Homo sapiens: one gene and its partners. Each later gene encodes a partner of the first gene's protein in a complex. Each region holds a gene or a part of one and is shown on either strand. Other genes may lie near its edges.

Evidence for each region. Proteins that work in one complex are often made in the same cells at the same time.
Region 2: the proteins of TUBGCP6 (region 1) and MZT1 are in contact, whole or in part, in a crystal structure (PDB 6M33), measured with the Homo sapiens proteins. Residues at the interface, in NP_065194.3 of Homo sapiens: Met1, Ala2, Ile4, Leu7, Phe8, Asp10, Leu11, Cys12, Ala14, Leu15, Pro17, Ala33, Leu37, Val40, Ala41, Ala44, Leu45, Asn48, Ile70, Leu73, Lys85, Arg88, Leu89, Leu92, Val93, Glu95, Leu96, Leu104, Leu105, Ser109; in NP_001065243.1 of Homo sapiens: Asn17, Ala20, Val21, Thr24, Val27, Leu28, Glu30, Ile31, Ser32, Ile34, Leu35, Asn36, Thr37, Leu39, Glu42, Thr43, Leu44, Ile46, Cys47, Arg49, Leu50, Cys51, Glu52, Gln53, Ile55, Asn56, Pro57, Glu58, Ala59, Leu60.
Region 3: TUBGCP6 (region 1) and NME7 share a complex: the UniProt entries of both Homo sapiens proteins name them as parts of the gamma-tubulin ring complex.

The regions. Positions count from the first base shown.
Region 1 is NC_000022.11:50,228,013-50,235,151, forward strand, and holds part of TUBGCP6 (gamma-tubulin complex component 6), read right to left. Parts: intron 5,515-7,139; coding exon 5,304-5,514; intron 1,566-5,303; coding exon 1,392-1,565; intron 17-1,391; coding exon 1-16. UniProt on the Homo sapiens protein: Component of the gamma-tubulin ring complex (gTuRC) which mediates microtubule nucleation.
Region 2 is NC_000013.11:72,707,867-72,710,629, reverse strand, and holds the end of MZT1 (mitotic-spindle organizing protein 1), read left to right. Parts: intron 1-284; coding exon 285-308; 3' UTR 309-2,263; downstream 2,264-2,763. UniProt on the Homo sapiens protein: Required for the recruitment and the assembly of the gamma-tubulin ring complex (gTuRC) at the centrosome.
Region 3 is NC_000001.11:169,364,798-169,372,435, forward strand, and holds the start of NME7 (nucleoside diphosphate kinase homolog 7), read right to left. Parts: upstream 3,001-7,638; 5' UTR 2,914-3,000; coding exon 2,911-2,913; intron 1-2,910. Other genes in the region: BLZF1 (golgin-45), read left to right, coding at 4,726-4,753. UniProt on the Homo sapiens protein: Possesses an intrinsic kinase activity. Displays 3'-5' exonuclease activity with a preference for single-stranded DNA. Does not seem to have nucleoside diphosphate kinase activity.

The DNA.
Region 1 (7,139 bases):
GGCCACTGGTGAAGGCCTGTGGGCAAAGAGGCTGGGAGGAGGGCGGCCAGGCACATGGACGCAGCCGTGCCCAGGGCCTGAGGGGCACCAGTGCTGGGAACAGCGCTTTGTTTCTTGCCTCAGCTCTGGGCTCCATTTCCAAGCAATGGGCCTCTGTGAGCCACACCCCGCCACCGGGCCAGGTGGAAATGCGGCCCATCCACAAGAAGCCAGAAGCTGTGGCCCACCACCAACCCTTCCTCTCATCTGAGCCCAGCTGCCCCAGGGGCGCCCACCACCAACCCTTCCTCTCATCTGAGCCCAGCTGCCCCAGGGGCGCCCACCACCAACCCTTCCTCTCATCTGAGCCCAGCTGCCCCAGGGGCATGGCAAAGGGGCTGGGGGGGAAATGGCGGCCGTGCTCTGTGCACAGACACTAGTGCTGTGAGGGCTGCAGCTGCTCCGACCACAGCTGTCTCAGTGGCACCAGCATCCTGGGCAACGCCACAGCAGCAGGCCCTGCAGGTCACACTAAGACAGGGGCACCCTGGACCAATCTCAGTCCACCCACCCCAGGAGCCGCCTGGCTATGCCTGCCAGATGAACAAGAACCACAGTCCAGCCCTTCTCAGCGTCCCCTGCTCTGACCCCTTCTCCACCATCTCTAGCTCTCAAGTCCCCCGGGGCTGAGCCTCTGCCTAGAAGCTCTCCCCGCCCCGTGCAGCTCCCACCATGCCCACCTCCACAGCCCATCTAAAACCTACACCTCACCACATCACCCCACCCGACAGCCCCTGCTGCAGCAGCAACAGTCAAAGGAGGCTGCGCTGCCTGGCTCCTCCAGGGCTCTCTGCCCACCTTCCCCAACACCCTCCTCTCAATCCCCCAAACCCAAATGCCCCATCATCCACCTGCCTATTCTCTCCCACTCAAGGTGCAGCCCCTGTCCCATGGGCCTCTTCCCAGCACATGAGCCAGCTTCAAGACTCACCAAACAGCAGCTTCCGGAGCCAGACTTGGCTCAGAACTCCCAGCAATGTAAATTCACCCAACAGGAGGGCCCTGCGCTGTCAGTCATCCACAATGTGCCGGGCCCACTGGGGAGCAGGCAGCAAGAGCCCCACTCACGCCTTTCCTGCCCTGCGCACCCCTTATGCTGGCTGCACCTGCCTCCTACACACCCCAGGGCCCACACAGCCCAGGGCCCACACACATCTGCCCCAAGTTTCTAGTGAGGTAAAACATCCTCACTGACCCATCCCTCAAGAGCCACTATCGGGTTTCAGATGTTAGCAAGGAAAGAAAAGGTTTAGACTCTCTGGTCCTGCAGAAGGACCTCTGAGATTCTCTCTTCCAGGTCGTGTGCACCGTTCTCACAAAGGTGTGTGACAACCATGAGGCAAAGGCCATACCTGGAACACGAGGCCCTTGCTGTACAAAGAGTCCAGGACGGGCTGCAGAGAGAAATGACTCAGGCGCGTGTAGCAGGTCCCATACTCGGCCACTTCCGAGAGCAGGCTGCTGATGCTCTCGGGAGACGCTCCTGACACGTGGACGCCCCGCTTCACCACAAAGGCCTGGGCCGGCTGCACAGGGGCAGAGGACACTGGTCACAGAGGCCAGGCACCCAGACCCCCAGTAAGGTGCCGTCTCCCTCCACCCTTGCACCCAACCCCACGCCACCTAGAGTGCCTCCAGGACCCAAAAGCAAATGCCCAGAAGGCATACCCAGAACTCCCACACCGAGGGACCAAACCGAGGCACAAATCCTCACTGACCACACTGAAAAATACATGTTTAAAATGCCAAGTGTAGAAAAGGGTAGAAAAAAACAGAACACCTTCCACAGGACACAAGTACACAGACAGCCTCCTGGGGCAGAAGCTATAAAACATGACGGCCGTGAGACCCGCTCATTTGACTCTTCGGGATGAATTAGAGAAATGATGGAAGATGCACAAAGACTCGCCACAGGACATTCTCCACAGTATGTTTATAACCAGAGAGTGGAGACCCCCAATAGAGGGCTCATGACAACCAAAACGAATGGGGTGTAGCAGAAGCCAGAAGGGAGGTTACAGCCGCAAATACCCACGTTAGAAAGGAAAAAAAATATCCCGCAATACAAAGGAACAAGATACCAAACCACAACAGCACCGTGTATACCCTAAAGAGATATTTTAAAAAGAGCTGTTAGGCCAAGCACAGTGGCTCACACCTATAATCCCAGAACTTTGGGAGGCTGAGGCAGGAGGATCACTTGAGCCCAGAAGTCTGAGACCAGCCTGGGCAACATAGCAAGACCCCCATCTCTAAAAAAATTTTAAAAGTTAGGCCAGGCATGGTGGCTCACGCCTGTAATCCCAGCACTTCAGGAGGCCAAGGCAGGTGGATCACTTCAGGTCAGGAGTTCATGACAAGCCTGGCCAACATGGCAAAGCCCCGTCTCTACTAAAAATACAAAAATTAGCCAGGCATGGTGGCGTGCACCTGTAGTCCCAGCTACGCAGGAGGCTGAGGCAGGAGAATTGTTGAATACGGGAGGCAGAGGTTGCAGTGAGCTGAGATCACGCCTTTGCACTCCAGCCTGGGAGACAGAGCAAGACTCCGTCTCAAAAAAAAAAAAAAATTAAAAATTAGCCAGCCGTGGTGGTGCATGCCTGTTGGTCCCAGCTACTCGGGAGGCTGAGGCAGGAGGATCAATTTGAGCCTAGGAAGTTGAGGCTGCAGTGAGTCATGTTTGAGCCATTGCACTCCAGCCTGGGTGATCCTGTCTCCAAAAAAAAAAAAAAAGAAAGAAAAGAAAAACAGGCTGGACGCAGTGGCTCACATCTGTAATCCCAGCACTTTGGGAGGCCGAAGCAAGCGGATCACTTGAGGTCAGGGGTTTGAGACCAGCCTCACCAACATGGTGAAAACCCATCTCTAATAAAAACAAAAATTAGCTGGGCGAGGTAGTGCACGCCTATAATCCCAGCTACTCAGGAGGCTGAGGCAGGAGAATTGCTTAAACCCAGGAGGAAGAGGTTGCAGTGAGCTGAGATCACGCCATTGCACTCCAGCCTGGGCAACAGAGCGAGACTCTATCTCAAAAAAAAAAAAAAAAAAAAAAAAGCAGTTAAACCCAAAACTAGCAGAAGGAAACAAAAAATAATTAGAGCAGAAATAAATACAGAGTAGGCCAAGCACAGTGGCTCACACCTGTAACACCAACACTTTGGGAGGCCAAGGTGGGTGAAATCACTTGAGGTCAGGAGTTTGAGACCAGCCTGGTCAACATGGTGAAACCCCATCTCTACTAAAAATACAAAAATTAGCCAGGCGTGGTAGTCCATGCCTGTAGTCCCAGCTACTTGGGAGGCTGAGGCAGGAGAATCGCTTGAACCCAGGAGGCGGAGGCTGCAGTGAGCTGAGATCACACCACTGCACTCCAGCCTGGGCGACAGAGTGAGAATCCGTCTCAAAAAGAAAAAAAAAATACAAAATAGAAAAACAATAGAGAGAACCAAACAAAAAGCTGGCTCTTTGAAAAGATCAACAAAATTGACAAGTCTTAGCTAGAATAATTAAGAAAAAAGATGACTAGGGCCAGGCACGATGGCTCACGCCTGTAATCCCAGCACTTTGGGAGGCCGAGACGGGCGGATCACAATGTCAGGAGATCAAGACCATCCTGGCTAACATGGTGAAACCCCGTCTCTACTAAAAATACAAAAAATTAGACGGGCGCGGTGGCGGGTGCCTGTAGTCCCAGCTACTCAGGGAGGCTGAGGCAGGAGAATGGTGTGAACCCGGGAGGCGGAGCTTGGAGTGAGCCGAGATCGCGCCACTGCCCTCCAGCCTGGGCCACAGAGCGAGACTCCGTCTCAAAAAAAAAAAAAAAGAAAAGATGACTATGAAAACAAGAGAAAAAAATCAAGTTACTAAAATCAGAAATGAAAAGTAGGGGCCGGGCGTGGCGGCTCACACTTGCAATCCCAGGACTTTGGGAGGCTGAGGCAGGCAGATCACTTGAGCCCAGGAGTTCAACACCAGCCTGGGCAACACGGCAAGACCCCATCTCTTCAGGCATTTTAAAAATTAGCTGGGTGGGCCGGGCGTGGTGGCTCATGCCTGTAATCCTAGCACTTTGGGAGGCTGAGGTGGGCAAATCACCTCAGGTCAGGAGTCAAGAGACCAGCCTGAGCAACATGGTGAAACCCCGTCTCTACTAAAAATACAAAAATTAGCCAGCCGTAGTGACATGCACCTGTAATCCCAGCTACTCGGGAGGCTGAGGCAGGAGAATTGCTTGAACCCGGGAGGCAGAGTTTGCAGTGAGCCGAGACCGTGCCATTACACTCCAGAATGGGCAACAGAGCGAGACTCTGTCTCAAAAAAAAAAAAGAAAAAGAAAAAGAAAAAGAAAAGAAAAAAATGAGCTGAGTGTGGTGGCACGTGCCTGTAGTCCCAGCTACATGGAGGCTAAGGTGGGAGGATTGAGATTCAGCCCAGGAGGTCGAGGCTACTGTGAGCTGTGATGGTGCCACTGCACTCCAGCCTGGGCAAGAGAGAGACCCTGTCTCAAAAAAAAAAAAGAGAGTCAGGGTTGGTTCCACACAATAAGGCTATCCCCACAACAGACAAGATGAGCTGTGAGCACGGTGTTGAGAACAGGCGCCCTCAGCGCCGGCAGCAGCTGGAGCTTGCTGGTGAGCACTTTTCTGGGGCAGTCACTGGCTGTGCTTCTAGTCCATTCTGAAGTCTAAGAATGGCCACCATAAAAGAACATTTAAGACAAAGGAAGGGGATGAGCACTTAAATGAAAAAGCTGCAGAGCAAGACTTCATTTTTCTGAATATATCCATTCACTTCTCCAGTGCCCAGCAAGAGGGCTGGCTAAACTGCAGCTGGTGCCAGAACCAGTAAGGCCCGGCCCCATCCCGGATGACACCGCATCCAGTGAGAAGAGCAGCGCAGGCCCCAGTCTCGGGACGCTCTCGGCAGGCAGATGCTCCTCCCGAGCGGTGGGAAGGCTCGGAAGGCGCCTGGCACTTCAGGACGGAAATGGAAATGCGGGGAGGAACATTTTCTATCGCTTTGCTGACAGCAATAAACATGTTATTTCTCTGCAGTTTTTTAAAAGGACATTAATAAATTAACACTTTTTAGAACCGAAATGGGATGATGCTGGCTGTCATCACTGGTGGCCCTGGGAGCTGGCCTTCCCTGCCACTCCCCACTCCCTGCACTGGGGCTTGTTCTGCCCCATAAAGGGCTGGGCACTGCGTGGTGGAGGGCAGGCCAGCCCCACACCACTGTGGCGGGGAGTGAGCAGTTCTCACCTGGCAGAGCGAAAACGTGGCAGACACGACCCCAATCAAGACGTTCAGCACGTCTTTCACCAGCTCGCACTCCTTCACCAGCACGGGCTGCGGGGCCTGTAGGACGCCCCCAGCAAGCAGCTGGAGCTCCCCTTGGTGGAGCCTGCAGAACTTGTCGAAAGCGTCCCTTCCCGCCTCCGTCAGGTAAGGCTCCTCTCTGTGGCCAGGGGGGCTGCGAGGGGTGCAGAAGAGAGGCCATGAGCAGACGTGGTGACCTGCACCTCAGCACCAGGGTGCTTTCTCTCGGGAATGGGCATGAACAGAAGAATGGAAGTGATTCAAAACAATAAACTCTAAGAAACATAGCCAGGTATGAATGTCAGCTCACCACCCAGCCTTTTGTGGATGCTGCTGCTGTGAATACCAGCACGATCGATTCTATCAGGACAACTCATGTGGAAAGTGTTCCAGGGCACCTTCCTGGGGTCCTGGGCATGGCCGGGGGTATCCGACTGGCCCAGCCCTGGAAGAGCACCCCAGGCCACGCCAGTGGCCCTCAAGATGGTGATTCACTCATAAAGTATTCTTCTGTTAGAAACAAAACAAGATTTGTACACCCATGTACACAACAGCATCTACACCCTGTCCATGGCAGCATCCACACCCAGGTCCATGGCAGCATCCACATCCCTGTTCATGGCAGCATCATCCACACCCCTGTCCACAGCAGCATCCACATCCAGGTCCACTGCAGCATCATCCACACCCCCTGTCCATGGCAGCATCATCCATACCCCATCCATGGCAGCATCCACACCCCCTGTCCACAGCATCATCATCCACACCCCTATCCACAGCAGCATCACCCACACCCATCCACGGCAGCATCATCCACACGCCCGTCCACAGCAGCATCTACACCCAGGTCCACAGCAGCATCATCCACACCCTCTGTCCACGGAAGCATCACCCACACCCCTGTCCATGGCAGCATCACCCACACCCACCCATGGCAGCATCATCCACACCCCTGTCCACAGCAGCATCCACACCCCTGTCCACAGCAGCATCCACACCCAGGTCCACGGCAGCATCATCCACACCCCTGTCCACAGCAGCATCCACACCCAAGTCCACGGCAGCATCATCCACATCCAGGTCCACAGCAGCATCGCCCACACCCCCGTCCACAGCAGCAGCATCCACACCCCTGTCCACAGCAGCATCCACACCCAGTTCCACAGCAGCATCATCCACACCCAGGTCCACGGCAGCATCGCCCACACCCCCGTCCACGGCAGCATCATCCACACCCCTATCCACAGCAGCATCATCCACACCCCCTGTGCACGGCAGCATCACCCACACCCCCGTCCACAGCAGCATCTACACCCAGGTCCACAGCAGCATCATCCACACCCCCTGTCCACGGCAGCATCACCCACACCCACCCATGGTACCAGCACCCACACCCCCGTCCACAGCAGCATCCACATCCAGGTCCACAGCAGCATCATCCACACCCCCTGTCCACGACAGCATCACCCACACCCCTGTCCCTGGCAGCATCACCCACACACACCCATGGCAGCATCATCCACACCCCTGTCCACAGCAGCATCCACACCCAGGTCCACGGCAGCATCGCCCACACTCCCGTCCATGGCAGCATCCACACCCAGGTCCACCGCAGCATCATCCACACCCCTATCCACGGCAGCATCCACCCCCTGTCCACGGCAGCATCAGCCACACCCCTGTCCACAGCAGTATCCACACCCCTGTCCATGGGAACATCATCCACAACCCTATCCACTGCAGCATCATCCACACCCGTGTCCATGGCAGCATCCACAC
Region 2 (2,763 bases), on another chromosome or scaffold:
ATAGGTTAATGTTTCAAGTAGCAGTATGTTTTTTGTGCTCTTAACTATTATTTTAGGTGATATAACTATTTTCCACTGTTAGCCTGTGGACTGTTAACTGTACATTCAAAAGGTAGTCCTGATGTATAGCAAAACATGAAAAGCACTGCATTACTGTGATAAAAGTGGTTCTGTTTTATGGGGAATAGTTGTTTGTTAATGACAGTGCAGTATTGACAAATTTATCTTCATGATGCCTCTTTTTCCATGGTTTTATTGTAATGAATCTTACTTTCTTGTTCTAGGCTGCTGAAAATATGACAAGCTGACTTTCTGGAGAAATTCTGATGAGATATGTCAAGCTCTGCAAGAGGGTTTGAAGATTGCATTGTAGTTGAGAATGTACAATGAAATTACTGCATGCAGCAGTGTAGAAAAATTTTACTTTTTAAAAGAATTATAAAACCATAGCTTTATAAATCAGTGGAAAGTGGCTTACAGAGAGAACTATCAGATGTGTTTACATCACATCTTATTCACTTTTTTTAACAGCTCTAATGCTTTGGCATTGCTATGTTCATATTTATGTATTCCTTATTTATAGCTCTGATAGCTTTAATTTTCTAAGCAGTCTGTCTATCAGATGTGCACATCTGCTGTGCCAGGTTGAAGTATAGTGGAACCCATCAGTAGTAATGTGTAGTAGTTATGACTTGTTGACATTTCCATTATAAACTTTAATTTTGAATTGTTTATGCATTATAACTGTGGATTTATATTGTATTGGGCTGAAAGTTGACAGGATTTCAGCCACCACTTGTGAATTTTTATTTAGATTCATTATGTATATCAGAATCTTGTTTTTTGAAATAAGAGCATGGAAAACATTTCTTGTAATCTACTCTTGAACAAAGAATATTTAGTTTTTCAAACAGTTTGTTGGGCAGCTAATAGTGTGAACCAGGTCATTTTTGTATTGAGTAAAAAAATCAAACTTTGAGAAACTTGGATTTTAAAAGTAATGACAATGCTTAGGTTAGTATTATTTGTAATTTGAATCATTTACATCTAATGAGAATGTTAGTTGAGAATGTTTTCTTAAAGTTTTATATCCTATAAATAACGGAATAAAAAAATTTGTAAAATGAAACAACAAACATGCAAAATTCCTATTTACTTTTATTACATAAAAGTAATTTTAGTGCTTACCTAATAAATCTTGAATGGTTATTTAATAAATTATTAGATGGGTGATGTGTTTCAAAAGATACTTGCTATTTTTTGAAGAAATAAGGATTTCCAGTCATTAAACAAAACTAAACAATCTTATTAGATGGGTGATGTGTTTCAAAGGATACTTGCTATTTTTTGAAGAAATAAGGATTTCCAGTCATTAAACAAAACTAAACAATCAAATGTTCTATATTAGGAATCTCAAGTATGGCTTTTTTTAAAAAACCTTTTTAACATCTTGATGTCAAGGATTATAAGTATGGCTTTTCAGAATTGTTTTGTTTGTCATTATTCTTGCCTTTAAAATTTTAACTCATCAAAGTGAAGATTAGAAATAAATTTTAGAAAATGTAGAATAGTATTGATTCTGTTCCTGTAATAGAATCTCAGTGGAGTTTTTTTGCAAAACTAATATGGATTTCATCTGATTTTATTATTTCTTAAATTTTAGATTTTATTGAGTACCATTTATATGATTGTACAAGCATTCACTCTTTACTAGCATTTTTTGTTTTTCAGACAAGCTGAAGTGGTTTTATTAAGATTTGGTAATATTTAAATAGCAACCTTCTCTGCCTTTTTTTTTTTTTAATATAGAATTTTGACCATTTTGACTTTTTAAATGCCTGGCATCTTTACCAACCAAGTAAACTGGAAGATCTGTTACTGGTAGAACAGGTTGAGGAGACAGTAGGAATTTGTAAAAAGTCATTTGATTTATAATCAACACTACAAATACTATGTGTTATTTATAAAATCATAAAGAACACTTTTGTCAGACTCCAAAATTTGTATATACTTCCAGGCCATAAGAGTTGATAGTATTATTTATGACTTTGTAGATTAAGTTATTTATGTATGAAACAAAGCAGGAAAATATATTGAGAAGGGATCGTGTTTACAGAGGACTTCTTTAAAGTGTCACATTTTTAAAATGTAAACATATTTTTAATGCATACTTAAGTAATATTTAAGAAACTAAACAAAATAATGATACAATTGCAGTGTTGTGCTTGTTGTCAATGACAAAAATAAAACCATTTTGGTGGTATTGGCCTGTACTTTTGTTTTAATATATGCTTTTGTTAATTCAACTTGTGTTTCTATAGGACAAAAGATACAGAACATAAAATTTACCATTTTAACCTTTTTTTTTTTTTTTTTTTGAGATGGAGTCTCACTCTGTCACCCAGGCTGGAGTGCATTGGCATGATCTTGGCTCAATGCAGCCTCCGCCTCCTGGGTTCAAATGATTCTCCTGCCTCAGCCTCCCGAGTAGCTGGGATTACAGGCACCTGCCACCATACCTGGCTAATTTTTTGTATTTTTAGTAGAGGCGGGGCTTCACCATGTTGGCCAGGCTGGTCTCAAACTCCTGACCTCAGATGATCTGCCTGCCTCAACCTCCCAAAGTGCTGGGATTATAGGCATGAGCTACAATGCCCTGCCCTTTTTAACCATTTTTAAGTTTCATAGTTCAGTGACATTCAGAATATTCTTATTGTATTGTAACTATCACTATTGTCCATCTCTTGAACTTTCTTATCCCAA
Region 3 (7,638 bases), on another chromosome or scaffold:
CTCTAGGGACTAAAACAGCCTTGTAAGACTAATAGAAGGCCGCAAGGTTAGGACTATGGGAGGGACCTAAAATCTGCTAAAATATAGGCATAGGTAAGCAATAACCAGCTACTGTTCCTTGCTTTTCTATAATTTCTTACTATTCAGAAGTCATGTAGCCAGAGGTCACAAGATTTGTAACTTCACCAATTGCTCCTTTAGATAACATCACTATTGTAAAACCTAAGATTGGTCTTGAGATATTTTCCAGGCTTCTGCATTCTGGCAAACCTCCTGATGCCACCCAGATACATGCCTCATACCAAGAAACTGACTCTACTAGTCCTATGACTCTCACCTAGACAACTGACTCAGCACAGGAAGACAGTTTGGAAACACCTATAAATTCATCCCCAACCAATCAGCAGCGCCCATTCCCTACCAACCTGCCCACAAAATTATCCTTGAAAACCACAACTTCCAAGCTGTCAGGGAGGCGGATTTTAGAAATATTTCCCATCCTTCCACTCAACTGCCTTGCCTCCATTAAACTCTTTCTCTGCTGCAACTCCTGCATTCTCAATGTTTGGCCTTTCTGGGAAGTGGGCAAGAAGAACACGTTGGCCTGTAATAGGAGAATAAATAAGTTTGGCAAGCAACAAGAGGGTGCAAGTATTCTGTGTAGAAGGAATTGCAAGTGCAAAGTAGAAAGAGGAGGCATACTACCAGTTTGAAGTTGCTTGGTATGTTCAATGAAAAGCAAGTAGCTAAAAGGCAAGAGAATTTTTTTTTTTTAAGTATGGAAAGGGAAAGGCAAAAGCTAGACAGAAAAGTGCTTGTTCATGGAGGAACTTGTGTGCCATTCTAGACATTTTACTGTAGGAAATAGGGAATCTAGAGTTTTAAGGAGGTGAGTAAATCAACAGGTTGGGTTTTTAAAAATTCCTTCTTGTGGCAGAGAAAATAATGGATTGGAGAATTTCCAGACCAGACTGTAAAAGTCACTATTAAAATAATCACGAAATGAGGAGATGACAAACTAAAATTTGATCTAGTGAACAACTGAATATGGGAGAAATAGAAGAGGGAGGAATGTAGGATAACTCTGATTTCTAGTTTAGGTTATAATATAGTAGTAGCATTATTTAACTTGGTGAAAATAGGAGAAACCAGGAGGAAAGATAGCAAGTTCAGTTTTGGTCATATTAAGTTTGAAGGACATTTGAGACAGATGTGTCCGGGAAGCAACTGAGTTAGGCATTAGTAGATCTGAGAGGAAAATTGAAATTTAGAAGCAAAATCAAAGGTGTTAGTAGAATCCATGTGAGTGGACAAAATCACCCAAGGAAAATGTCTAGACTAAGAAATGAAAGTAATCAAGGAGTTAATTCCAAAGAATGACATTCAAAAACCAGGCACAGCCAGTAAAAGGAATTAATGACTATGAACCTCAGTTGTCACAAAGAGACTAAGTAATGTAAATTTTGAGAAGTAATTACTGTATTTGGTATTTAAAAGGCCATTAGAAACTTAAGCAAGAACAACTTTCTTGAAGCCATTAAAGAAGCCAGACAGAAGACTTTTGTCTGTTTGATATAAGTAAAAATAATATCCTTTCAAGAAGTTTACTGATAGATAGGAGGACTAGGAAATAACTGGATAAACACAGGATGGAGGACATGGTTTTGCTTTATTTAATTTTCATAAGATGTGTGACTTGAGCACTGAAGAGAAGAAACTGGAGAGGAAAAGGCTGAACGCACAGGAAAGAAAAAAACAACTGGAAGCGAAATGTAACAGATGGAAGCAAATGAGATCAAGAGCAAAGATGGATGGATTATCCTTTAATATCCCTTTCTCTACACTAGAAATACAAGACTAAAGGCTCGGCAAAAATATAGAGCAATGTGTAGGTTGGGGGCATGAGGTTGAAGAAATGGCCTGTTATACTCCATCATGTTTAGAAAGGAGAAATGAAGAGGGCAAAAGACAGGGTTTGTAAAGGGAAGGTTTGAAAATGTCTTCACAGAGAATGGGTCAGGGGAAAACTGGGGTAACCAAAAGGATTGCTGAGTAGTATGAAGAAACAAGGGGTGGTGGGTGAGGGCTCTGTTTCTAAATTCATAGCTATAACTATCTAAAGATCTTTCTATCCTCCAGTCCGTTATCCATAAGTGCTTAAAAGATATGGTAGTTAAGTGAATTAACTAGAACCCTCTCAAACATAGGGGTGAATTAAAATAACCTATAGGCTTATTTAAAATGCAAATACCGAGCTCCATTCCTTTCATTCAGAATTTCCAGGGGTGAAGCCCAAACAGTGAATTCCAGAAGCTCTCCAAGCAATCCCAGGAGAAATTTCTGTTTAAAAAAAAAAGAAGAAGAAAGAAAAGAAAAGAGAAAAGAAAAGCAAGCACAGACCTAGAAGGTAACCAACTGGATAGAAGAGCGCTGATCCAACATACACCTGTTAATGGCCCTCGTGGGGGCGTGGGGCAGTGCTCTGCCACTCAGAAAAGCAAAAAGACTCCAAGATCTAGGGAGATTCAGATCAGTGTTGAGACAGTCACATACACACCACCCCATACTCTTAATAAAGCGCGTTAATGTGAATCTGTGAACATGAAAAATGCCATGATGAACAATGCAAACACATAATGTTTGTTCAAAACAGGTTATTAGACTCGATGCCTTACCCTAAATTTTCTGTTTCATTACTCTAGAGACTTAGTAACATTAGTGGAATTCAGGGTGCTGTAAGAAATACGGAGAGCGAGGAGACTGCAGGAACAGCCCGTGGGAAGGGGGAAAGAGATAACGGGGAGAAGGTCGGGAGGACCGGACAACTTTAAGTGCCCATCCGCCCGAAGACTTGGAAAGCTAAGTAAGTAGGACCCCAGAGCCGTTCTTCTGGCATCCCCTGGCACTCACCATTGTCTCAGGATCTCAGCACTAGAAAATAGGTATCGTTGAGACAGGAAGACACCACCACCACCACCATCATACGGTTACTCAGGCAACAAAGCCCCGCCCACTGTCGCACGAGGCGTGGGACGCCACCGCCCCACCTCTTCGTCCTTAGTGGCTGGGAGTAATCTCAGCTGCGTTCATCCAATCGACAGACCCGCCCCTCCACGCTGTCGCCTGGGGCTACGAGACGCCATTATTCTGTTTCCGGCAGTTTTACTTCCGTTTGTTTAACAGCTGGCCCGGAAGTTTAAGTGAATATGCGGCTTGGGCTCCAAAAGTTGCTGTACGGTATTTTATTTTAAAGTAGAAATCTGTCCGCTTTTCACTTACGGAGGCCTTACAGTGTGTGTTCTGTGTTACTTGAGTTTATACGCACTGCAGAATTTGTTTACCCTGCTCTTTTGGAAACGTATTCCGGAAGCGAAACCCTGAGTAATCGGAAGTGGTTAGGAGTGAGAGAGCTGCTGGATATGCGGAGGGACTGGGCGGGTCGGCTTCCGAATGGAAGAGGTCTGTGAGAAGTTAACCTGGTGATACCGATCCGAAGAGCCTATCAAGTGAAGCCCCCTGAAATACGGAGAATAAGAATCTTAGAGGTAAATCCGAGGACAAGCAGGTATAACTAAGGATGTTGGAAAGGGACGGAGGTCTGGCTGGAGCTCGGTGGCCAGTAGCTTTGGATTTAGGGAAAGATTGTTCCGGGAAGACTTTTTCAGACAGGGATGAAACTTAGGTTTCGACTTCCCCGGACAGCAAAGTTGACAGGCTTGTCGCTTCCCGGCCTATCGCTTTCATACCTGCTCACTCCCCCTACTTACTTCTTCACCCCCTCCGCTTCATTTGGCATTTGCCAGCAGGCACTCGCTGTGCCTGTACGTTTCGCAGAGCAGCTATCAAGGGCAGTTTCAGGGATCGTTACTCTTACGAAGGGTTTTTTGGATACCTCTTTTCGGAGCAGTAGAGTGTAAGTGTAGAAAAGTTTGTGACTGTTAAGAAAGTTAGTCGTCGGGTTCACTAATTGAACTGAGTTGTATCTAGTACTGAGAACGATCTTTTTTTGTAGTGAAACCAGTTGTCATCTAGTGTACAGTTTGTCATATTTATATCATTGCAGTAGCATCACCTTCTTATATGTTCTCTGGTAAATCTGAGTCTGTACTGTAAGACAATGTATACATTTCTGAAAGCATGGGCTCGATATGTTTCTCTTTTTACTTTTGGAGCTACACTATTTTAATTTTAACTTTTTATTACCAAAAAAGTATAAATTATGTTATCTTGAGTAATATTTTTTGTCGTTTGTTAAACATCTAAACAGAAGCTCCTTTTTGATATGTGTGTGTGTGTATACAAATTGTGTCGGTATGTCTCCTAAGAAAGTAATTACTTTAAAATTCCTCTTGTCATATGGATGACAAAACCACCACAGTAACTTCATTCCCTTTGCTTGGCTAAAATTCAGGACATACTTCTGACAATTTAGAGTGTATTGGTGAGGATGGTGAAACGGAGTATTTAGAAGTAAACCACCCCTAATTTTTTTTTTTGAGACTTTTAGTAGACATAACAATGCCTTCTGTGAGAATGGGATATAAGGGACATTTCTCTTTCTAAATGCATGCGTACTAAATACAGAAGCAATTAAAATATCATAACTTTTAAATTGGAGGTACTCTATGTGTTTATATGATATTTTTAAAATTATTTCATATGCATACATTTCTAGGTTGTTCAGCAGAAGTCTTGGAGTGCATTTTCAGTGGTTAAGGTGAAAAAATGACTACTAAAAATTTAGAAACCAAAGGTAAGTGGCTTTTTTATAATTGTTTTTAAAACATGACATTTATGACGATGTGAAGGAACGTTTGAGCCAGATAACTAGATCTCATGGACCCCCTTGGGAATCATTTGTTATTTCAGATCCCTTTATGTTTATTTTTTAGTGCAGTGTTTATATTTCAGTACTTTAGATGTACAAGTGAAATTTAACATCATTAGTTAGAATTTATTAGGTGACTACTCTTAAACATTTAATGTTAATGCAAAGTTTTTAACAGCTATATTCCCTATACACTAGAAGATTACGATTTAAATAAGAATACACATTTTAAAGATTTAAGTAGATAGACAAAGCAACTAGGGTGTATCAAAGATCTCTTTCATGTTGTATTAGTTTGCTGGGGTTGCTGTAACAAAGTACCACAAACTGCATGGCTTGAACAACAAAATGTATTCTCTCAGTTCTGGAGGCTAGAAGTCCAAGATGAAAATGTCAACAAGGCTGTGCTCCTTCGGAAGGCATTAGAGACACTCTCCTAGCTTCCAGTGGCTTGCTGGCAGTCTTTGGTGCTCCTTGTCTTGTAGACGTACCACCCTTATCTCCGCCTTCATATTCACATGGCATTCTCCCTATGTGCATGTTTCTGTGTCTAAATTTACCCTTTTTATAAAGACAGCAGTCATATTGAAAAAAGGAACCCAGTCTACTCCTGTATGATTTCATCTTAACTAATTACATCTGCAGTGATCCTGTTTCCAAATGAAGTCTCATTCTGAGGTAGTGGGGGGTTAGTACTTCAACAAATAAAGATTTGGGGGACACAATTCAACCCCTAAATTGCTAAATACAGTAGTCACTTTTTAGTCCTAGCTGATTTGTCCTCTCTAATATTTAATACTGTTGACCATTCCCTGCCTTTTGAGATACGTTCTTTTGATGACTTCCATGACATCACTTTTATTTTCAGTCTACTCTGTAGCCTTTCACTGTCCAATGCGGTAATTACATGTGGCTATTTGAATTTAAATTAATATTTTTTAAAAATTAAAAATTCAGTTTCTCAATGACGCTTGCCAAACTTCAAGTGGTCGGTAGGCAAATATGGCGAGTAGCTATTTCAATCATTGAAGAAAATTCTGTTGGACAGCCCTGCTGTAGCTGTATCTTCTCTCTTTCTTTTTCAGCCTCTTCTCCTTCTTATTTATCTTTTAAATATCAACACTTTCCACCACTGTTTCTTTTCTACTCTCATGACTTCAGTAATTATCTATATAAATGACTTCCAAATCTATCTATATCCCTAATCTCCTTCTTTATGATTCATACCCTTATAGACTACTGCCTACTGGCCATCTTCACATAGCTGTAGGCAACAATTTTAACATGTCCCATAGTGAACTTCTCCTGACCCAGCTTATTCTTTGGATGGGTTGAGTTCTGCATGCTAGAACCATCAGTTAAAGATGGAAAACTGTTTTCTAGATGCCAATTTTTCAGCAAACTGACCTCCAGCCACAAACCCTCTCTAAAAGCAGGTTGAAATAAGTTTAAGAAACAAGGAAGAAAGATCATGCTAATAAATATTTAATTGAATTTAATTCAGCTTTGCAACAGCATTTCATAAGTCACCAGAAGGCTTTTATACCATTAGATAAGCAAGTCAGAGACTGTAATGAAAGTAATAAACTGGGGATTAATGGGAAATAAGAGCAGTTAAATAATTAATGTGAAAGCAACCAACATGGTGCTTGTCAAAAAGCAAAAACTAAATACAATATTATGATTAGTCATTAGAAGTACTGGCAAGTTCTCTGTGAAATTAAATTACTTTTTAATATTTATTATTACTTGTTTTTAATGAGGATTAGAGTTATAAGGCACTTTAACAAACATTATTTTGTGTGATCTTAATTATCCAGTAAGGAAAATAATTCTATTAGCCATATTTCTATTTAATCTGTCATCTGATGTTAGTGAACAAAAGTTACTTGTATTGCATGGCCTGTGAAAAGGTGTACTTGGTTGACATTTGTCAGTTGTCTGTGCTTCCTGTAACTGCCTCAGGAGATAAGTACGGTTGTTTGGTATAGCAACAGAACTTCCTCTCAGAAGACATTTGAGCAGCACTGTCATCATAAGAGGGTTGTATCATGGCTGCTAGTGCTGTTTCTGAAAGGGAAACATACAGTAAATAGTAACAATTAGAAACTTAAAATCCAAAGCTTTTCTTGGATGTGGGATTAAAATTGAAAATAAAGCTATTAAAGTCAACTAGTTTAGTAATAGTAGACCAAATAGAAAGGTCTGAGACATTTAAATATTTTTGATTCCATAAAATAGTCTAACACTAGTTCTGTAGAATAATAGGTGTTAGGTAAAAAAGATATTCCATGAGCAGATAAATTTGATAAATGCTGTATTAAAAGAGAGGCTATACTATGGGACCTCTCAGAGTCCTATAGTATAACTTTAATACTAATGTACATTGAAACTCTGTAGAGATGCAGTATGCAACATTGCCCACACTTATTTGACCAGGGATCTCTATCCATAGAGCCTGTGGTAAGAAGAATGCTTAGATTCCACTTCAGTAAATCTCGATGTTACTCTTAAGTCCATTGTATGTAACTTATTTTACTAATTTAATAATAACTAAACTTTATTAGGTGATATGGGTGACATTTAAAAAGACTCTTGATTTAAAATTACCACATGACAATCCCTAATTTGTTTAACTGTATCATAGCTGAATTTGTATATGTTCTGGAAAGTCTTTCAGACTATAACCAAGTTAGGAATTAATGATTTAGGGTAGAGGAAAAAAAATAAAGCAGTTTTTAAATGGGTTAGTTTTTGGATGTTAAAAATGAAACACTCTAGGTAGTGTATTAACAGACTAATGAGCTTCA